Linked DNA regions of Homo sapiens. The protein of the gene in region 1 purifies or fractionates together with the protein of each later gene. This does not show direct contact. Each region holds a gene or a part of one and is shown in the gene's direction. Other genes may lie near its edges.

The links. Proteins that work in one complex are often made in the same cells at the same time.
Region 2: the proteins of RAB43 (region 1) and WHAMM purify together in Homo sapiens (affinity purification with mass spectrometry; one large-scale study listed by BioGRID and IntAct). This does not show direct contact.
Region 3: the proteins of RAB43 (region 1) and EVI5L purify together in Homo sapiens (affinity purification with mass spectrometry; one large-scale study listed by BioGRID and IntAct). This does not show direct contact.
Region 4: the proteins of RAB43 (region 1) and CFAP36 fractionate together in Homo sapiens (co-fractionation; one large-scale study listed by BioGRID). This does not show direct contact.

What each region holds. Positions count from the first base shown.
Region 1 is NC_000003.12:129,085,625-129,090,804, reverse strand, and holds the end of RAB43 (ras-related protein Rab-43), read left to right. Parts: 3' UTR 1-3,233; downstream 3,234-5,180. UniProt on the Homo sapiens protein: The small GTPases Rab are key regulators of intracellular membrane trafficking, from the formation of transport vesicles to their fusion with membranes.
Region 2 is NC_000015.10:82,815,513-82,820,459, forward strand, and holds part of WHAMM (WASP homolog-associated protein with actin, membranes and microtubules), read left to right. Parts: intron 1-1,179; coding exon 1,180-1,330; intron 1,331-1,366; exon of another isoform or gene 1,367-2,075; coding exon of another isoform or gene 2,076-2,190; intron 2,191-2,407; coding exon 2,408-2,577; intron 2,578-3,810; coding exon 3,811-3,976; intron 3,977-4,947. UniProt on the Homo sapiens protein: Acts as a nucleation-promoting factor (NPF) that stimulates Arp2/3-mediated actin polymerization both at the Golgi apparatus and along tubular membranes. Its activity in membrane tubulation requires F-actin and interaction with microtubules.
Region 3 is NC_000019.10:7,846,603-7,851,549, forward strand, and holds part of EVI5L (EVI5-like protein), read left to right. Parts: coding exon 1-77; intron 78-1,129; coding exon 1,130-1,319; intron 1,320-2,318; coding exon 2,319-2,543; intron 2,544-2,653; coding exon 2,654-2,728; intron 2,729-3,394; coding exon 3,395-3,520; intron 3,521-4,831; coding exon 4,832-4,947. UniProt on the Homo sapiens protein: Functions as a GTPase-activating protein (GAP) with a broad specificity.
Region 4 is NC_000002.12:55,525,603-55,530,549, forward strand, and holds part of CFAP36 (cilia- and flagella-associated protein 36), read left to right. Parts: intron 1-3,275; coding exon 3,276-3,390; intron 3,391-3,835; exon of another isoform or gene 3,836-4,947. UniProt on the Homo sapiens protein: May act as an effector for ARL3.

The sequences.
Region 1 (5,180 bases):
AGTCCTCCCTGTCCCATGCCTGCTGGCTCTGACCGTTTCCTCTCATGGGTTTGCTTTACCTGTGGCAGCAGGTTGCTGCTTTCCAGGGATGTGTCCAGTGCCCTGGGTTCTTCCCGGTCATCCTGGGGCTCTGCACAGAGCAGCAGAGCTAGAGCCATGAGACCCACAGACTTGGTGCCTGAGCGCAGCTCCAGGGAAGCCCCAGCCCCTTCCAGGCGGGGAACCTGCTTCCTGCCTTCACTGCCCCCGCAGCACTCACAGACATCTCCCTGGGGTCTGGCTCACTGCCTTATCAGGACCTCTGAGTTTTCTGACTTTCTGTGTAGCTTCTCATTTTCATCAGCACAGCATGGGGTCACGGCCCACAGCTAGGTGGGGTCACGGCCCACAGCTAGGTGGGGACTGTCTGCTGGCTCAGGGCCCAGTGTTTTGCCACTCAGGTTGCAAAATTAGCTAATCCTTCAGTGCCAGCACTCAGAAGTCTGGCAGGTGGGGGAATGAGATGAGAAAGTGGACATTTAAGGTCCAAGTAGAAGCTTGCATCCTTGAGGCTCAGGGATGAGAGGGCACCGCAAGGCACCCAGCCTTACCCCACAAGCAGGAATCCTGCCAGCCGAGCGTGGGTCCCAGTCTATGGAATCGAGTCTCCCAGACAAAAAAGGAGAGGCCCTGGCGGTCCTTGGCCTGGCCCATTTTATTCCCTGGACCCTTAACTGCCTCACCCTGAGCTGGGCACCAAGGTTAGAAGGCAAAAGTGGGGTAGGGGGATGTGGGAAGCAGCATTGTCCTCTGGGCATGTGGCTCAGAGGTATCACAGTGACAAAAGAGCCAGGGCTAGGGCTGGAGGGGCCAGGTGATCTTCCTTAGCCAATCCCAGTCCGTCTGTGTCAGCCCAGCTCTGCCTCGCAGCCCCCTCAGCATGGGTGCCCCCAGAAGTAAGCAGCTCTTGGACCCACGAGCAGGGCTGCGTCGGTTTGTGGTCTAGCTCCCAGGGGCAGGCCAGGCATGGCTCAGTGCAGTCCCTGGGCCAGTGAGAGGCCTCCCCCATGCCTCCCTGCCCTCTGCACTAAGCACTTTCCAGGCAGGCCTGGCCATAGGGCAAGAGCAGGCCTTACAGCAGTGCCACGGTGACCCAAGAGGCAGGGTTGGGGCCTGGACAGGGTTTCCTCTGCTGAGACTGAGACAAGCAGGGCTTGATGCTGGTGGTGGAGCCAGCATCTCACCTGCCAGGCTTCCTTTTGGGCAGGGAGGCTACCTGTGGAATGGCTGAGCCTGGTTCTGCAGGGGAGGAAGGCTGCCAGGAGCTGAGGGGCTAGCACCTGCATTGAGGGGAGTCTGGGTGCATCAGATTGGGGGGCGCCAGAGGCGAGGCTGCCTGGCTCCCTTTCTCAGCAGCTTTGCTTGTGGCAGGGGTGAGAGTGGAGCTGAGTGGGGTCTGGGCTCTGCCCCTGCGCCTCCACTGCAGTGCCTGGGCTCCCCTTGCAGGGCAGACAGTGCCTGGCACTGAGGGGTGCCCCCAGACCCCGCTGGGACTGGATGTGCCGTGGGCAGTGCCTTCCTCCAGCCTCACAACCTTTCTGCTGGGGCTGAAGTTTCTGGGGTCACATGGTCAGAAGGGGCTGAGCTGGTCTTTCACTGCAGGCCCACTCTGAAAGAGAAATCCCATGAAGCCTGTCCTTGCAGAGCCCCTCTGTTTTTGGGGGAACAGGGAGCATTCACAGGGTCTTGGGAACAAAGGCCTGGGCCTCCCCGTTTGAATTTCAGCCCCAGTTCCAGGGCAAGTCCCAGCCACCCAAGCATACTTACCAGTACTGCCCACCACCACCCACTGCCCACCTCTAAGAAGCCCGGCTCTCCTACTCTGCTTCCAGGCTGGGGCCTCACAGGTGGGGCTGTTACCTTCCTCAGGGCTTAGGGAGGGAGGGAGGACATGGACAGGGCCTTCCACCCTGGCTCCTTCACAGGGATGGTAGCTGACCGGTGATGGGTTCATTTGTCACCTTGGACTGTGAGCCACTTCCACTTCTCGCCCCCCAGGCAGGAGCACCCTCACTCCAAGGGCTTGGCCTGGAAAGGCAGGCTCACCTGGGACTCAACGTTCCTTCCCCCGCCGCCACTGTGCCCCCCGTCCCTCCACCCCAGAAGCCCTGACCTCATTTGGGCACCTTGCTGTCCTCTGGGCTTCTCCTCTGCCCAGGTCACCCTGTGGCAGGCCTGGGCCCTCAGGATGTTTCAAAGGCTCCACAGCTCCACCGCTCCACCTGGCTTCACTCCAGCACCCTGTCCCTGGAGCACCTCTGTCCTGTCTGGGCCAACCTGGTCTCCCTGCCCCATGCCCTCCCCTGGCTCTTAGCAACCTGCCCTTTTATTCATGCCATTTGGGGTCACAGATGCCTAGCTGGACACAGCTCCCAGAACTGGCTCCACCCTGGGGCCTTGCCCCTAGTACCCCCTGGCAGGAGCAACCCACCCCATGGTCGAGGTTCCCCTACCCCTGGATCCTGGACTGAAGCCATTTCCTACAGAGAAGCGTTCCCACCCCCTCTCAGGCACAAAAGCCGGTGTCCAGGGACTCAAGACCTGTACCTGGGGTTGCAGGGGCTCCTGCCCTGCTGTATCCCACCAGGAGGGGGCCCCACTGCCCTTCCGGCCCTTAAAACTGGGCTGGGAGAGAAGACGGGGAAGTGTGTGAGACAAAACAAAGCCGGCTTGTTTCCTCCCCTTGGCAGGCTAAGCTCTCCCGGCAGCCCGGGCTCTGGGGCGGAAGGAGAACAGTGTCATCTCTTCCTTTGTTGATAAATTGCCAAAGAGTGGGAACAGGTGGGGTCAGGGGCCAGAGTGCAGGGGAGGGGGCAATGGTGGAGGTGGCGGGGGGAAGCAGAGGGAGGTGGGCTGAGGCCTCGGTGGGGCCAGTGCGACGCTGGCTTAAGGAGCTGGAGGGGTTCCTAATACACATTTAATTCAGTTTCTCTTCCCTAAGAGGCTGCCGGAGTTGGGGCCTCCTCCAGCAGAGACCCTCGGACCCCTGCAGGGCCTGGACTTGGGGTGAACAGGGCTTCAGTCAGCGCAAGTATTCCATTTGCATTTGGTAATTTTTCATGCCACCTATTTATGAATATATAAATCTTTATACCAAATCTATTTTTTAAAACATGGAAAAGTTGCCTTTATGGAAACTTGGCAGAGCCAGAGTGTACACATTCCTAAACCATTAAACAGATTTCTATAACAAGCCACTGCGCCCAGGACTGGTTCTCTGATCTTTGAGCCCAGAGGCGGCCCAGGTGGCCACGTGCCTCAACTAGTCTCCAGGCCCGGGGTGGTAGACAAGCTGCCCCCTGCCAGTCTGCCACCCAGAGCACTGTGAGACCTTCCCTCTGTCCCTAAACCCTTGGGGGACCCCCCTGAGCAAGAAGCAGTTGGTGCCTGAGGGGCAGAGGAAGCTTGGGCTGGGTCCCTTCTCTGGGACACCCCAGGTTCCTCCCATTGGGTTTGTGTTGGAGAGGGCTCTTTGGTGATTGGCAGGGGCACCCTCACCCCGACCTCCCCATGAGGGAAGCGTCACTCTCCTGAGCACACAGGCCTGGATGAGGAATCCCTTGCCCGGGTCTTGTAGCCACATTGATCCCACAGTGGCAGGAACAACCCACCCCATGGTCGAGGTTCCCCCCACCCCTGGATCCTGGGCTGAAGACATTTCCTACAGAGAAGTGTTCTCACCCCCTCTCAGACACAAACGCCAGTGTCCAGGGGCTCAGGGCCTGTGCCTGGGCTTTGGGGGGCTCTGACCTGTTGTTATTCCGAGTTAGGACTTAAGAACACCATGAGGGGCTCTTGCTTCTGTGATGTGACCAGCACAGAGATGTTACCAGGCACACAGTAGATGCTCAGCTTAGAGAAGTGCCTGAATCAGGTCTCTGGCACTGGGAAGCCCATGAAATCCATAGCCTGCCCACCAATATAATCAGGGGTCTATTCCTGGTCACTCAAATAAGGGGTTTTCTGCCGAAAGGGACTCTTAAACAGCAGGGCTGCTGGTTGGTCACCCTGAGGAAGAAGAGGGGGGCCTAGCAGTGCTGCACCACCTTGCCAAGCCTGAGACAAACTGACATGATGGGGCTCATAGCAGCCTGCCGTTGAAACCTAGGTGTGCCCTGACTGTCCTGTGGTTCTGGGCAGGTCACTTCTCCTCTCTGGGCCTTGGTTTCCTCAAACCTGGGATCCTATTCCCTGTCCCATTTGCATCCCGGGGAGCCCTGAAGAGACCCCAGGAGGGGAGTGCTTTATGCACTGAAGGCCTGGAACAGGGCACTGGAGGAGGAAGACCCAGAGCCCTGGCTCTCAAGACAGGCCTGGCTCCAGGCACCTGCCATCCTTCCCAGGGAGAAGGAAGGCCTGATGTCTGAACTCCCTCTTCTCTTCTGAATGCCAGGAAGCACCAGAGTGCGCGTGTGCCCCTTGTAAGTCAAACCCATAACCAGGCCTGTCTGAGCCCGGCCATCCGCACGCTCCCAAGAGGCTCAGACCTGGGTCAGTCTGTCCCTAGGGCCCTCTGAGGCCTCTACCCAAACAACAGGACTGCCCAGACCCCAGAGCAAACAGACAGCACAGGTCCACTCCTTGACTTCAAAGTATGGAAGCTGAGACTGGATCCCAGAGAGTCTTGCTCAAAGCCCCACGATGTTCACTTCTGAGCCCCCACCTGCACGCCCAAGCTGGGTGCTGGGTCCCAGAGGTGAGTCTGCCTTGCTGCCTCCAAGGGCTCCCAAAGCTCCAACCTGGACCCCACTCCTCCCTGCACACATTTGCCGCTGGGATTGGCCAGCCCCGCCCTCAGGGAAGCCAGGAGGCAGGGGGGCCCCTTCCCTGTCCTCACCTTCACCCTGGCTACTCCCATCCCCACCCAGCCCACCCACCTCCTGCCTGGGCCTCTGCCCCAGCCTCTTCCTGACCTGGTCCTGCCTGGGCATCTCCTTGTGGCTGCAGAGAGCATCCTCAAGCAAGACCCCTAGCCACAAGGTCCCGACTCCCTCACTCAAGACCTCTTCCACGGTCCTTGTGGCCCTCGGGCTCCTTAGAGAGGGCCCAGCATTGGCCACTCTCCCCTGACCTGGCCACACACAGCCACACGCTGCTCTGCCACCCCCAGTCTGAGCTGCTCCCCGCAGACCGACCATCTC
Region 2 (4,947 bases), on another chromosome or scaffold:
ATTCTGTGAATGTTTGTGTGTAAGTTTCTGTGTAGACATATGTTTTCATTGCTCTTGTGTATGTACTAAGGAGTAGGATTGCTGGGTCCTGTGATTACTCAATGTTTAACCTTTTGAAAGACTGCCAGACAGTTTTCCAAAGTGGGTGCATATTTTATATTCCCAAAAGCAGTAAATGAGGGTTCCGGTTTGTCCACATTATCACCAGCACTTGTTACTGTGTGTCTCTTTGGTTACAGCCATCCTAGTGGGTGTGAAGTGGTATCTCGTTATGGTTTTGATTTGTAATTCCTTGTCGGCTAACTTGTACATATTTCTTAGGCTTTGTAGAAGAAAAATTGCATATTGGATGACATAGCAGTACACGTCTTAGTTCAGGCTGTTATAACAAAGTACCGTAGATTAGTGGCTTATAAACAACAAAACTTTTTTTTCACAGTTCTGGAGGCTGGGTAGTCTGAGATCAAGGTGCTCACAGATCCATTGTCTTGTGAGGGCCAGTTTCTTAATTTGTAGATGACTGTCTTGCTGTGTCTTCGCATGGTGAAGAGCAGAGAAAGAGAGATCCTGTGTCTCCTCTTCTTTTTATAAGGGCATTAATCCCATTCTTGAGGGTTCCACCCTCATGACCTAATTACCCCCCAAAGGCCCCATCTTCAAATATGATCACACTGGGGATTTAGGCTTCAACATATGCATTTTGGGGGGAGTCCAATACCAGTACATGTTATAAGCATGAATATACAGATACTATATTTTAGGTGATTATATTACATATCCCTAAAAGAAACAGTAACAACAGCTAATACTTAAGTGCTGTGTTCCAGGCCCTATGCTGAGTGCTTGACAACACAGATCACTCATTTAAACAATTGTGTATTATTATTAATAGAAGCATAAGTTGACAACATTCCTCTCTAGAAAAAGTTATTCTAGGCATGTGAAGTGAAAGTGGGTTTTTTTTTCGCTTTATGCCCCAGAGTGTCCTTTTGTCTTACAGGTGGTGCTCAGCTTAGAGCCTTATTCATACGCAGTAAGGGACTGCTGAATGAATGAAAATTTAATTGACTGAGTAGTAGTGTAGTTAAATTAATCCATGTGACCAATTTCCTTTCAATTTCCTAATGGCTCTACATAACTATTAGCTCTTACTAAGAAAATTTTCCCTTCTGTCTGTAGAAGTCTTTGGATGAGGATGACCTAGGTCCTAGAAGGGTAGTTGCCCTGGAGAAAGAAGCTGAAGAATGGACCAGACGGGCTGAAGAAGCTGTCGTCTCTATTCAGGATATCACAGTGAATTATTTTAAGGAGACAGTAAAAGCATTAGCAGGTGATAATTTAAAAAATGCTATATGAAGATACATGTAATTGATTATCATTTTATTCAAATACCATTTGAGTCCCTCTTACGCACTAGGTACTATGTTTTCTAGGTGCTGAGAATTCAGTGTCAAGCGTTAAGAGACGTTGTACAGTCTGGTGAAGGGAGAGAAATCTTAATTATCTATTCATTGAAGCACATGGAAAATGGCAGTGACAGTAAATGGCACAAAGAAGAGAGACATGGGCTCTGAGGGTCTGTGAGAGAGAAATTGGGCTTGATCAGGGTGGTGGTCACTGAAGGCCTCTGAGAAGTGGCGCTTGCCCCAATATCTGAAGGGTAAATGGAAGTTGAGAGAAAATAAAAAGTGAGGAGTATTCCGGGCAGAAGGAATAGCACTGCCAAAAGTCCCCTGCCTTGAGGGAAGTTGGCAAATTAGGAGCTTAAAGAAAACCTGCGGGGCTGGATCGCAGAGAGTGCAGGACAGTGTGGTATGAGGGAAAATGCTGGCCAGACAGGCAGGGGTCAGACCATGCAGGGGCTTGTGGGCTGGGTGAAGGACTTTTTTTTAGTCTTAAATAATTGTTGATAAAAACACCAAGTAGGAAACAACTTAACGTCTGTCAGTTTGTTAAGTTATGGTACCTTCATAAAACAGAAAACTACGTAGCTGTTAAGCATGATTCTTGATTTTTTTTTATGAGTGGCAAGAGTTTCTGATACATTGTGCAGAATCAACAAGATAGAAAGCAGAATGATGATCCTGGTTTTGTGGTCAAACTATCCATATGAGCCTGTCTGTCTAGCTAGACATAGAAACAATATGGAAGCAAGTGTGCCAAAATATAAGAAGCAGTTGCCTCAACTAGGTGAGATCATGACTTACTGTCTTTTTAAAAATGGAATACCTAAAATTTTATATCAATGAACATGTATTATTTTTATCATAATAAAAAAGTTAATAAAATTTCTTTTAAAAAGGATATTCTGCAGGTAGTATGGAGGCAATAAAAAAAGGATTAGCTCATGATAAATGTTTCCCTTTTTAATGAGGTGTAATTATATTTTATTTTTATAATCCAACAGGAATGCAGAAAGAAATGGAACAGGATGCGAAGAGATTTGGTCAGGCTGCCTGGGCCACAGCAATTCCCAGGTTGGAAAAACTTCAGCTAATGCTAGCTCGAGAGACTCTGCAACTCATGAGAGCGAAAGAGTTGTGTTTAAATCACAAAAGAGCTGAAATTCAGGGAAAGGTAAGACAAAGATAAACATAACTTTGTTTTAAAAATACACTTTTATTTTTAAAACATTTTGTATAAATAAAGGATACAAGTGCAGTTTTTGTTCCATGGATATATTGTGTAGTGGTGAAGTTTGGGCTTTTAGTGTAATCATCACCTGTATAATGTAATTGTACCTATTAAATATTTCTCATCCCCCCTCCCACCCTCTTACTCTTCTGAGTCTCCAGTGTGTATTATTCCACACTGTGTATACACATTACTTAGCTCCCACTTATAAGTGAGACCATGTGGTAAAGCACACTTTTATTTTTAGATAGCACTTTTCTTTCCAGGCATCGTTAAAGAGCTTCTTTTCTTCGCTTATTCCAACACCATCTTCTGTGGAAGGTTAGACATAAAGTTTTCCTTTGGTTAAGATGTTTCAAAATACCATATTGTAGGTTTCACTTTATAGTAATACCAAGCTCAGTATTGAAATGGGTACTGTACTTGAAAATCAACCCAGCAATGTTTTCACTACAACTTTAAAATAATCAAAGAGATACTTCACTGCATAGTCACTTAAATTTTTTCCTATAATCTTATGACTTTAAAGCAGAAAACACTGTAAACACCTGTCTTAGTTGGCTCAGGCTTCTATAACAAGATTAAATATCACAGATTGGGTGGCTTAAACAACGGACATGTATTTCTCACAGTTCTGGAGGCTGGAAAGTCCAAGATCAAGGTGCCTGCAGATTCACTGTCCGGTGAGGATCCTCTTCCTGTCTGGTAGACAGCTGCCTTCTTAACTGAGTGCTCATATAGCCTTTCTTCTGTGTGTATGTTTAGAAAGAAAGTGATCCCTCTCTTTCTCTTCTAATAAAGGCACTAATCCCATGATGGGGGTGCTATCCTTTTGACATAATCTGAACTTAATTACTTCCAAAGGACCCACCTCCAAATAACATCACACTGGGAGTTAGAGTGTCAACATACGAATTTTTGGGGGGACACCAATATGCAGTACATAATAATACCTCATTGCCATTTATGTTTCTCAGAACCTAAATGTTTTCCTCTGTTTCAAGGATGAGATAAAGTATTTGCATCACTAGATGAAATGAAAAAGTGTTTCTTTCCTATTTGCTTTGTTATATTTAGTACTGAACAAGGAATAGAAAATAGCTAGAATGCTTCTAAAGTTTGTTTTTAATATACTAATTTATTTTAACTTATTTTTCTTTTTTCTATGAAAATAAGATGGAAGATCTTCCAGAACAAGAAAAAAATACAAATGTTGTAGATGAATTAGAAATACAATTTTATGAAATTCAATTAGAACTATATGAAGTTAAATTTGAGATATTAAAAAACGAAGAAATACTGCTTACTACACAGTTGGACTCTCTTAAAAGACTTATAAAAGGTAAAATTTAAGTATATAGATTGCAATGTTTAAATTATAAATTTAAGGAAATACAGACCATATTATCAATTACTTTTTGTAAATTATAACATCTGAAAATTTCCTAAAGTTTTCCTTCAGTGGTTTATTATTCAAATAATATATTCATTGTTAACACATAGCAAAACAAAGAAAGAAAAATGATTATTACCCCAATCCCATCATCTAGAGATGCTTAGTGGTTGGCTGGGCACAGTGGCTCACGCCTATAATCCCAGCACTGTGGGAGGCCGAGGCGGGCAGATCACTTGAGATTAGGAGTTCCAGACCAGTCTGGCCAACATGGTGAAACCCCATCTCTACTAAAAATACAAAAATACTAAACCCTGTCTCTACTAAAAACACAAAGTCCAGTGTGGTGGCACGTGCCTGTAATCCCAGCTGCTTGGGAGGCTGAGGCAGGAGAATGGCTTGAACCTGGGAGGTGGAAGTTTCAGTGAGCCAAGATCGTGCCACTCCACTCTAGCCTGGACAACAGGGCGAGACTCCATCTTGAAAAGGAAAAAAAAAAAAAGATACTTCGTGGTAACAATTTGCTGTATAACTTTGTAGATTTTAAAATATGCTGATATATAAAAATATAAATTTTTAACCAAAATATATAACCAGTTCAGTAACATCTTTTTAAACAATTTTTAATTTTTATGGGTGCATAGTAGATATATATTTTTATGGGTTACATGAGATATTTTGACATAGGCATATAATGCATAATAGTCTCTTTTTCATTTAATACATAACTGTCTTTCTATTTCAGTGAATAATAAAAGTATCAAAATTTTAATGGCTGCATAGTATTCCATTATATGGATATACCATGATTTCCAAATTTCAGGTGTTTTGAACAGTAGTGTAGTGAACTTTACACATGTCTTTGAGTATAGGACAGATTATTTCCTTGGAATAAATTTCTAAGGATGGAATTATTGGGT
Region 3 (4,947 bases), on another chromosome or scaffold:
TGCTCCCCAACCTCTGACTCCGAGAACCTCAGCCCCGATGAGCTGGAGCTGCTGGCCAAGCTCGAAGAGCAGAACCGGTGAGTTGGGGGCTGGGGGATGGGGTGAAATCTTGGGGTGCAGTCTGGGCCCCCACAGGAGTTCCCAGGTGCCCTCACATTCAGAGCCAGGCCCAGTGTGTGCAATGTGACAGCCACCTCCAGATGCTGGATGAGGGACAGACACCTCCTTTCATCCTCCCAACCCTGGCTGAATATATGTGTCCCCACCCTGTTCAGATGAGACTGAAGGTTTGAGAGGTCAAGTGAATCTGTGAATCCGCCGCGGTTAATGGAGCCAGGACTGGAGGAAGAGTCGATTCGGGCCTTCCTGCTTTCTTCCTCTGACCCTACCCCCATTTAAAATGCAGGTTTTAGGCTGGACGTGGTGGCTCACACCACCGAACACTTTGGGAGGCCGAGGCAGACGGATCACTTGAGGTCAGGTGTTTGAGACCAGCCTGGCCAACATGGTGAAATCCTGTCTCTACTAAAAACACAAAAATTAGCTGGGCATGGTGGTGGGTGCCTGTAATCTCAGCTACTTGGGAGCCTGAGGCAGGAGAATCACTTGAACCCGGGAGGCGGACGCTGCAGTGAGCCAAGATCACGCCACTGCACTCCAGTCTGGGCAACAAGAGCAAAACTCCGTCTCAAAAAAAAGGGGGCGCTGAGGGCAGTGGCTCAAGCCTGTAATCCCAGCAGTTTAGGAGGCTGAGGCAGGTGGATCACCTGAGGTCAGGAGTTCGAGACCAGCCCGACCAACATGGTGAAACCCCATATTTACTACAAATATAAAGTTAGCCAGGTGTGGTGGCATGCACCTGTAATCCCAGCTACTCAGGAGGCTGAAGCAGGAGAATTGCTTGAACCAGGAGGCAGAGGTTGCAGTGAGCTGAGATCACACCACTGCACTCCAGCCTGGGCGACAGAGCAAGACTCCATCTCAAAGAAGAAGAAAAAAAAAAGAACAAGAGGGACCTAATCCCTGGTGTCCTCTAAGACCCCCAGGAGGGGGAGGATGGGCTGGGCTCGCCAAGGATCCCTGTCCCCAGGGAGTCACTGGTTCCCCTCTGTCGGCCCTTCCTGCCCAGGCTCCTGGAGGCCGACTCCAAGTCCATGCGCTCCATGAATGGCTCGCGGCGGAACAGTGGCTCCTCGCTAGTGTCCAGCTCCTCGGCCTCCTCCAACCTGAGCCACCTGGAGGAGGACACGTGGATCCTGTGGGGCCGGATCGCCAACGAGTGGGAGGAGTGGCGGCGCAGGAAGGAGAAGCTGCTCAAGGTGGGGGGCGGCCAGGCAGGCAGGGCTGGGCCGACGGCGTGGGCAGGTGGTGCGGTCACTCAGCCACCAGGCAGCGCCAGGGTCTGCGGGGCCCCAGCCTGGGCACAGCGGCAGCAGTGGAGATGTGCAGGCACTTTCAGGGTGTCCTGCCAGAGCACAGGGACAGGAGAGAGTGAGTCAGGGTGGTGCTGGACAGGCCCTGCACCCTCGAGTGCCCATGTGCTTGCTGCCCTGTAGTGCCCATGAAGGATGGGGGTGTGGTGGCTCACGCCTGGAATCTCAGCACTTTGGGCGGCCAAGGTGGGAGGATCGCTTGAGGCCAGGAGTTCGAGGCCAGCCTGGGCAACGTAATGAGACTCCGACTCTATAAAAAGTTTAAAAATTAGCCAGGTAGGCCGGGCGCAGTGGCTCACGCCTGTAATCCCAGTTCGTTGGAAGGTCGAGGCAGGCAGATCACCTAAGGTCAGGAGTTCAAGACCAGCCTGGCCAACATGGCGAAACTCCGACTCTACTAAAAATACAAAAATTAGCTGGGCGTGGTGGCGTGCACCTGTAATCCCAGCTACTTGGGAGGCTGAGGCAGGAGAATCACTTGAACCTGGGAGGCAAGAGGTAGCAGTGAGCCAAGATCACGCCACTGCACTCCGGCGTGGGCAACAGAGTGAGACTCCATCTCAAAAAAAAAAAAAGTTTAAAAATTAGCCAGGCGTGGTGGTGCACAACTGTAGTCCCAGCTACTCAGGAAGCTGAGGCAGGAGGATCGCTTGAGCCCAGGAGTTCAAGGCTGCAGGGAGCTATGATCGCACCACTGCACTCCAGCCTGGGTGACAGAGGGAGACCCTGTCTCTGAAAAAAGGGGGTAAAAAAAGGATTGGGGACCATGAGTTCTGTGCCATGCTTGAGGCCTGGATGAGCCACGCCTGAGGAGCTGGGCTGGGTGGCCACGGGGAGGCTGCGCTGGGACCGAGTCCAGCCCCCGCTTCCCGCTCCCGTGGCCAGGAGCTGATCCGCAAGGGCATCCCCCACCACTTCCGGGCCATCGTGTGGCAGCTTCTGTGCAGCGCCACGGACATGCCCGTCAAGAACCAGTACTCCGAGCTGCTCAAGATGTCCTCGCCGTGCGAGAAGCTGATCCGCAGGGACATCGCCCGCACCTACCCGGAACATGAGTTCTTCAAGGGCCAGGACAGCCTGGGCCAGGAGGTCCTCTTCAACGTCATGAAGGTGAGGCCCAGGGCTCCCCGCTCCCTCGGTCCCAAAGGAAGGAGAAGTTCCCCAGTTCACCGGCTGTGCTGGACGGCGGGACCCTGCTCTCAGGACTTGTTCCCTTCTAGGCATACTCGCTGGTAGACCGGGAGGTGGGCTACTGCCAGGGAAGCGCCTTCATCGTGGGCCTGCTCCTCATGCAGGTAGGTGGCTGGGGGGTGGCTGGGCTCCTGCCAGACAACAGCCCACCCTGGGCTCGGCCCCCAAGAGATGGACAGAAGTGGCGTGTCCTCCACCCAGCGTCTTGCTAGGGGTAGATCCTCCTTCTCCATCCACACCCGTGACCTCTGCCAATCGCCAGGCCAAGGCCCAGTGAGTGGCACCTGTCTGGTTGGGTCCTGTCTGCTGTACCATCCAGGACAGAGACCGGGTTTGGAGGGATAGGCTGTCTCTCTCTGCCACATCTCAGGGTTGGACAGGAACCTCAGGCTGGGGACTTAAGCCATCCAGCGTGGTGTTTATGGGGCTTGGGGGTCTCCTCCAGAGAAATCGGGAGGCTGACAGGGAGAGAGGACGCAGCTGGGACAGGAGGTATCCTAACCAGGGGGATGCTGGCAGTGGCCAGCCCTGGGTTCAGGTCCAGCTCCCCTGTTTCCTGCCGAGTGGCCCTTGGCAGGTGACCTCAGCCTCAGGTCTTCCATCAGTAAAACAGCTTGTGAGGACACAGGGACCAACAGTGTGTCATGAGAGTCTAGGGAGCCAGGTACCGACATGGACATGGGCCCCTGTACCCCAGGGCCCTGATGAGCAGCGAGATGCCCCTCCCCGCTGCGCTGCCCTGAGCCCCCCCACCTGCCCGTCCCCCCTAGATGCCTGAGGAGGAGGCCTTCTGTGTGTTCGTGCGGCTGATGCAGGAGTACCGGCTGCGGGAGCTCTTCAAACCCAGCATGGCCGAGCTCGGGCTCTGCATCTATCAGTTCGAGTACATGCTGCAGGTGAGCAGGGCCGCAGGAGAGCAGGGCTGCAGGAGGGCAGGGCCACAGGTGGGCAGGGCCGCAAGGGAGCAGGATCGCAGAAGGGCAGGGCTGGCACCCTAGACCATACCCGGGCACCTCTTGGACTGAAAATTCCAAGCCTGTGAAATCACACCTGGACGTTCCAACTCCAAAAGGCACTCCTCTTTCCATGCAGCACTGCCCTGAAGGATGCTTGGAGGAACAGGAGAGCCACCACTGAAGGGGGGCTCCCAGGGCTGCTGAGGCAGAGGGGTGGGGCAGGCTCACATCGGACACAGCCACAGCCACCTCCCTGTCTGCTCCAGAGTGTGGTGGAAGGAGGGAGTGTTGTCTGCCTGCCTGATTACTGGAGAGCCGCAGACGTCTGTTTATAAATAGCAGCCCCCGCAGGGCCTGCTCCCGGCTGGCAGGCAGAGCCGCCAAGGCCGTTTGCGAACATACACACACCCGCATGCATACACACACACGCAGACACACACACACACACCGGCCCGCCTCAGCTGCCATGGCAGGTGGGGCTGTGCAGTCATCCCTGGATGTGACAGCCCCACTCCCTGGGCCTGGATCATGGACGGTGCTGTAGCCTTAGGGGGCCTGGTAGTGCCACAAGCAGGAGGCCTGGGCTGCAGAGAAGGCACCACCCCACCTCAGGCTGGGTAGCAGAGCCCTCCCACAGCCAAGCTTGCAAACTCAGGGCGCAGAGAGCCCCTGGCGCTGGGAGGAAGCCCGGGATCCTAACGCCTTCTCCGGCCTCAGTTTCCCCAGCCGTCTGCCACTTTCTGGCTGTCTAGAGTTCAGGCCAATCCAACACAGCTTGCACAAAGCTTTATGCTGGGGTCCAAGGGAGGTACAGTGGCTGGCAGGTCACGTAACAAGGTGGGGGGGGGGCTCCCCCCAGGGCCAGAGGCTGCCACTTGCCCATGCTCCACCTCTGGGTCTCAGGGTGTCTGTGGGGAGTGACCCAACTCCCCCAGCCTCAGACACACCCTCTCAGGCTGTCGTGAGGACCCCATGAGCTGCCACGGGCGCATCACCTACCCAGGGTGGGCCCCCAACACAGGCGGCTACAGATCTTGCCATCCCTGCCTGTCCCCCACCCCGTGCTACTCAAAGCTCGGGGGTGCTTCGGCCTCCCTCAGACAGAGTGCTGAGGGAGCACCAGGAAGGGAGCCTCAGGCTGCCCAGCGCAGGTCCAGGAAGGCTCCCTGGAGGCGGGGACACTGAGGCCCAGCACCCCCCGGTGGGAGGGCGTCCCCCTCACTGTGCCCACCCGGCCTCCCACCCCTGCAGGAGCAGCTCCCAGACCTCAACACCCACTTCCGTTCCCAAAGCTTCCACACATCCATGTATGCCTCGTCCTGGTTCCTCACACTGTTCCTGACCACCTTCCCACTCCCCGTCGCCAC
Region 4 (4,947 bases), on another chromosome or scaffold:
TTCTACTGCCATTCCAGGTAACTTGCTCTCTTTTTTTTTTCTTTTGAGATAGAGTTTCGCTCTTGTTGCTCAGGCTGGAGTGCAATGGCACAATCTCGGCTCACTGCAACCTCCGTCTCCTAGGTTCAAGTGATTCTCCTGCCTCAGCCTCCCAAGTAGCTGGGATTACAGGCTCCCACCACCATGCCCGGCTAAGTTTTTGTATTTTTAGTAGAGGCAGGGTTTCACTATGTTGGCCAAGCTGGAACACCTGACCTCAGGCGATCCACCCGCCTCGGCCTCCCAAAGTGCTGGGATTACAGGCGTGAGCCACCACGCCCTGCTGCCCCTTGCTCTTATAAGCATCTGTACACCTACCTTTGCTCATGCTGTCCCTTAACCTGGAATGTATGGTCCCCTCCCCAGACCACTCCATCATTCCTTTCATAATGCGGAGAAATCCTCATTATCAGGGCCTGGTTGAAATGCTACTTGTTATAGCAGCTTTGCTGCTTATTCTAAAGTCAGACCAGAATTCAATCTACTTAACTAGGCCAATTGTAAATTGATATTTTTGTTACTCTGCCTTGAATTATAGTTTCCTACAAGTCTATTTGCCCTACTAAATTGTAAGTCCTTTGAGCTGTGTTTAGTATATTTGCATTCCCTGCTGGTAGAACAGAGATGAAAACTTAGTTGCTAGTACATAGTTCTCAATAAATGTTTATTAATTTAAATTGTCTTGTTATGATGGCCTAGAAGAGGTTGCCTTGACTACTTTTTAATCCAGCACTTCCTCTTTTGCACAACTTTTCATTTGATGATCACCTTTAATTCTAGGAATAGAAAACCTTTTTTGTTTGTTTGTTTTTGTTTTTGAGACAGAGTCTTTCTCTGCCACCCTGGCTGGACTGCAGTCGCTCAGTCATAGTTCTATGCAACCTCTAACTCCTGGGTTCAAGTGAATCTCCTGCCTCAGCCTCCTGAGTAGCTAGGACTATAGGTGTGCACCATTATGCCTGGCTAATTTTTCAGTTGTTTTGTAGAGAGGGGGTCATGCTGTGTTGTCCAGGCTGGTCTTGAGGTCCTGGCATCAAGCAATCCTCCTGCCTCACCCTCCCAAAGCTCTGGGGTTACAGGTGTGAGCCACTACATTTTGGCTGGGTGTGATAGCTCATACCTGTAATCCCAATGCTTTGGGAGGCTGAGGCAGGAGGATTACTTTAGGCCAGGGTCTCAATACCAGCCTAGGCCACAATGCAAGACCCCATCTCTACAAAAAATAAAAATACAAGAATTAGCTGGGCATGGTGACACGCTGCTGTAGTCCTAGCTACTTGGGAAGCTGAAGTGGGAGGATTGCTTGAGCCCAAGAATTTGAGGCTGCAGTGAGCTATGACTGTACCACTGTATTCCAGCCTGGGCTGCAGAGTGAGACCCTGTCTCTAAAATAATAATAATAATAAAATAATTTAAATGTTATTGGTATGCCCACATTAATGTGAAAAAATCTGGCAATTTCCAAGAAGACATAACAATCTTTAATATGTATGTACCTAATAACAAAGCAACAAAATGTGTGAGGCAGAAACGGAACTGCAAGGAGAAATGGATGAATACATGATTATAGTTGGAGACTTCAACACCCTCTGTCAGTATTGGACAGATCCAGTAGTTAGAAAATCAGTAAAGACATAGTTGAACTAAACAGCACCTTCAGGCCAGGCACGGTGGCTCATGCCTGTAATCCCAGAACTTTGGGAGGCCGAGGTGGGTGGATCACTTGAGGTCAGGAGTTCGAGACCAGCCTGGCCAACGTGGTGAAACCCGTCTCTACTAAAAATACAAAAATTAGCCGGGTGTGGTAGTGGGCACCTGTAATCCCAGCTACTCAGGAGGCTGAGGCAAGAGAATCGCTTGAACCTGGGAGGTGGAGGTTGCGGTGAGCTGAGATCGCGCCACTGCACTCCAGCCTGGGTGACAGAACAAGACTGCATTTCAAAATAAATAAATAAATAAATAAATAAACAAACAACAGCACCTTCAGTCAACTGAATTTATTTGACATACACCACTTCATCCAATAATCAAAAATACACATTCTTCTCAAGATCACACAGAATGTTCGTCAAGACAGACTACATTATGGGCCATAAAACATACCTTAACAAATTTAAAAGAAGAGAGATCATACAGTGTCTGCTCTCAGACCACAACATAATTAAACTGGAAATAAATAACAAAAGATAATTGGAAAAAAACAAAATACTTGGAGATTAAACAACACACTCTAAAAAACACATGTGGGCCAGGCATGGTGGCTCATGCCTATAATTCCAGCACTTTGGGAGGCCAAGGTGGGCAGATTGCTTGAGCTCAGGAGTTTGAGACAAGCCTGGGCAACATGGTGAAACTCCAACTCTATAAAATACAAAAAAATTAGCAGGGTGATGTGGTACACACCTTCCGCCATGTTGGCCAGGCTGGTCTCAAACTGCTGACCTCAGGTAATCTGCCCACCTCAGCCTCCCAAAGTGCTGGGATTACAGGCATAAGCCACTGCGCCTGGCCACAATTTTTGTTTTATAGAATTATAAGGAATTATATAATTATATATAAAATATGTAATCATAGAATAATCATAAAGTATTATATTTTATAGAATTATAAACAAATGCCCCTCTTTATTGCTGATCATCTTTCTTGTTCTGAGGTCTACTTTATCTGAAACTAAATTAAGCTACTCCAGCTTTCTTTTTTTTTAAACAACTTTATTGAGATATAATTTGCATATCACAATACTGATCCTTTTGAAAAATTTTTTTTTTTTTGAGACGGAGTCTTGCTCTGTCACCCAGGCTGGAGTGCAGAGGTGCGATCTTGGCTCACTGCAACCTCTGTCTCCTGGTTCAAATGATTCTCCGGTCTCAGCCTCCTGAGTAGCTGGGACTACAGGTATGCACCACCGCACCTGGCTAATTTTTTTATTTTTTTAGTAGAGATGGGGTTTCACCATGTTGGCTAGGCTAATCTTGAACTCCTGACCTCAAGTGTTCTGCCTGCCTCAGCCGCCCAAAGTATTGGGTTTACAGGTGTGAGCCACCGTGCCCGGCTGAGAACCCTGTTTTAAAGGCTATTAAGATAAATTTTAAAATTGTCCTTTTGGGACATCTAATCATAAATAACAATGTAGCATTCTTGAATTAATCTACTGTTTTGCAGTAGAAATGGTTCGAATGTATGGGTAATAGTTTTAAAACTTGAATCTTCATTTCACTTGAGACTTCTTTCCACAGGCCATTTTGCAACCTGTGTTGGCAGCAGAAGATTTTACTATCTTTAAAGCAATGATGGTCCAGAAAAACATTGAAATGCAGCTGCAAGCCATTCGAATAATTCAAGAGAGAAATGGTAAAATGTTGAAGTTAGAAATCTAAGTACTAAATGCATTTTTTTTTACAGTTTTGACTATTCTAATATGGTCTTAAATGTAGCTGTCTCATGTACATTTATTTCAAGTTTGAAAGACTTCAGCTGACTTGAGATTTTAGAGTATATGGCTGGGTGCAGTGGCTCACGCCTGTAATCACAGCACTTTGGGAGGCTGAGGCGGGCAGACCATGAGGTCAGGAGATCGAGACCATCCCAGCTAACACAGTGAAACCCCGTCTCTACTAAAAATACAAAAAAATTAGCTGGGCGTGGTGGCGGGCACCTGTAGTCCCAGCTACTTGGGAGGCTGAGGCAGGAGAATGGCGTGAACCCGGGAGGTGGAGCTTGCAGTGAGCTGAGATCGCGCCACTGCACTCCAGCCTGGGTGACAGAGTGAGACCCTGTCTCAAAAAAAAAAAAAGAGTATAAACTTCCTGATTTGTATTTGACATCTCAAAGAAAGGAGACCAGAATTCAATGATACTTTGGATTTCACAGAGTTCAATTTTCTGCCCAGCCATTATGTTTATGAAGTTGAGTATTTTTGAATGGTCATAGTTGTGGTTACTGTTGAGAGGTGTCCATCCTTTTTCTGGCTTAAGATTGTTAGGACCTTTGTAGGAAGCAGTGGTTCTTTTTTTTTTTTTTTTTGAGACGGAGTCTCGCTCTGTTGCTCAGGCTGGAGTGCAGTGGCATGATCTCGGCTTACTGCATGCTCTGCCTTGCGGGTTTACACCATTCTCCTGCCTCAGCCTTCTGAGTAGCTGGGACTACAGGCACCTGCCACCACTCCGGGCTAATTTTTTGTATTTTTAGTAGAGATGGGGTTTCACCATGTTAGCCAGGATGGTCTCGATCTCCTGACCTCGTGATCCGCCCGCCTTGGCCTCCCAACGTGGCCGGAAGCAGTGGTTCTTAAGCTTTAGCAAGCATTGGAAATGGTTGGAGGGCTTGCTGAAGCACATATGGCTGCCTCCCAGTTTCTGATTTAATAGGTCTGGGGTACCGATAATTTGCATTTTTAACAATGATATGGTTTGGCTGTGTCCCCACCCAAATCTCATCTTGAATTCCCACGTGTTGTGGGAGGGACCCAGTGGGAGGTAATTGAATTTTGGGGGCAGGTGTTCCCCATGCTGTTCTTGTGATAGTGAATAAGTCTCATGAGATCTGATGGTTTTGGGAAAGGGGAGTCTTCCTGCACAAGCTCTCTCTTTGCCTGCTGTCATCCATGTAAGACGTGATTGCTCCTGTTTGTCTTCCGCCATGATTGTGAGGCTTCCCCAGCCATGTGGAAATGTAAGTCCGATTAAACCTCTTTCCTGTGTAAATTGCCCAGTCTCGGGTATGTCTTTATCAGCAGCATGAAAATGGACTAACACAAACAAGTTCCCAGGTGATGCTGAAGCTGCTAGTCCTGGGACCACACCAACACCCACTGTTCTAGGGCACTGGGCAGAGACAGATAAGCTTGTACCAGCATCATGTGGAAGACAAAATGGAACTCAAAGCCCTATTAACCCTGGTTGGCTTTAT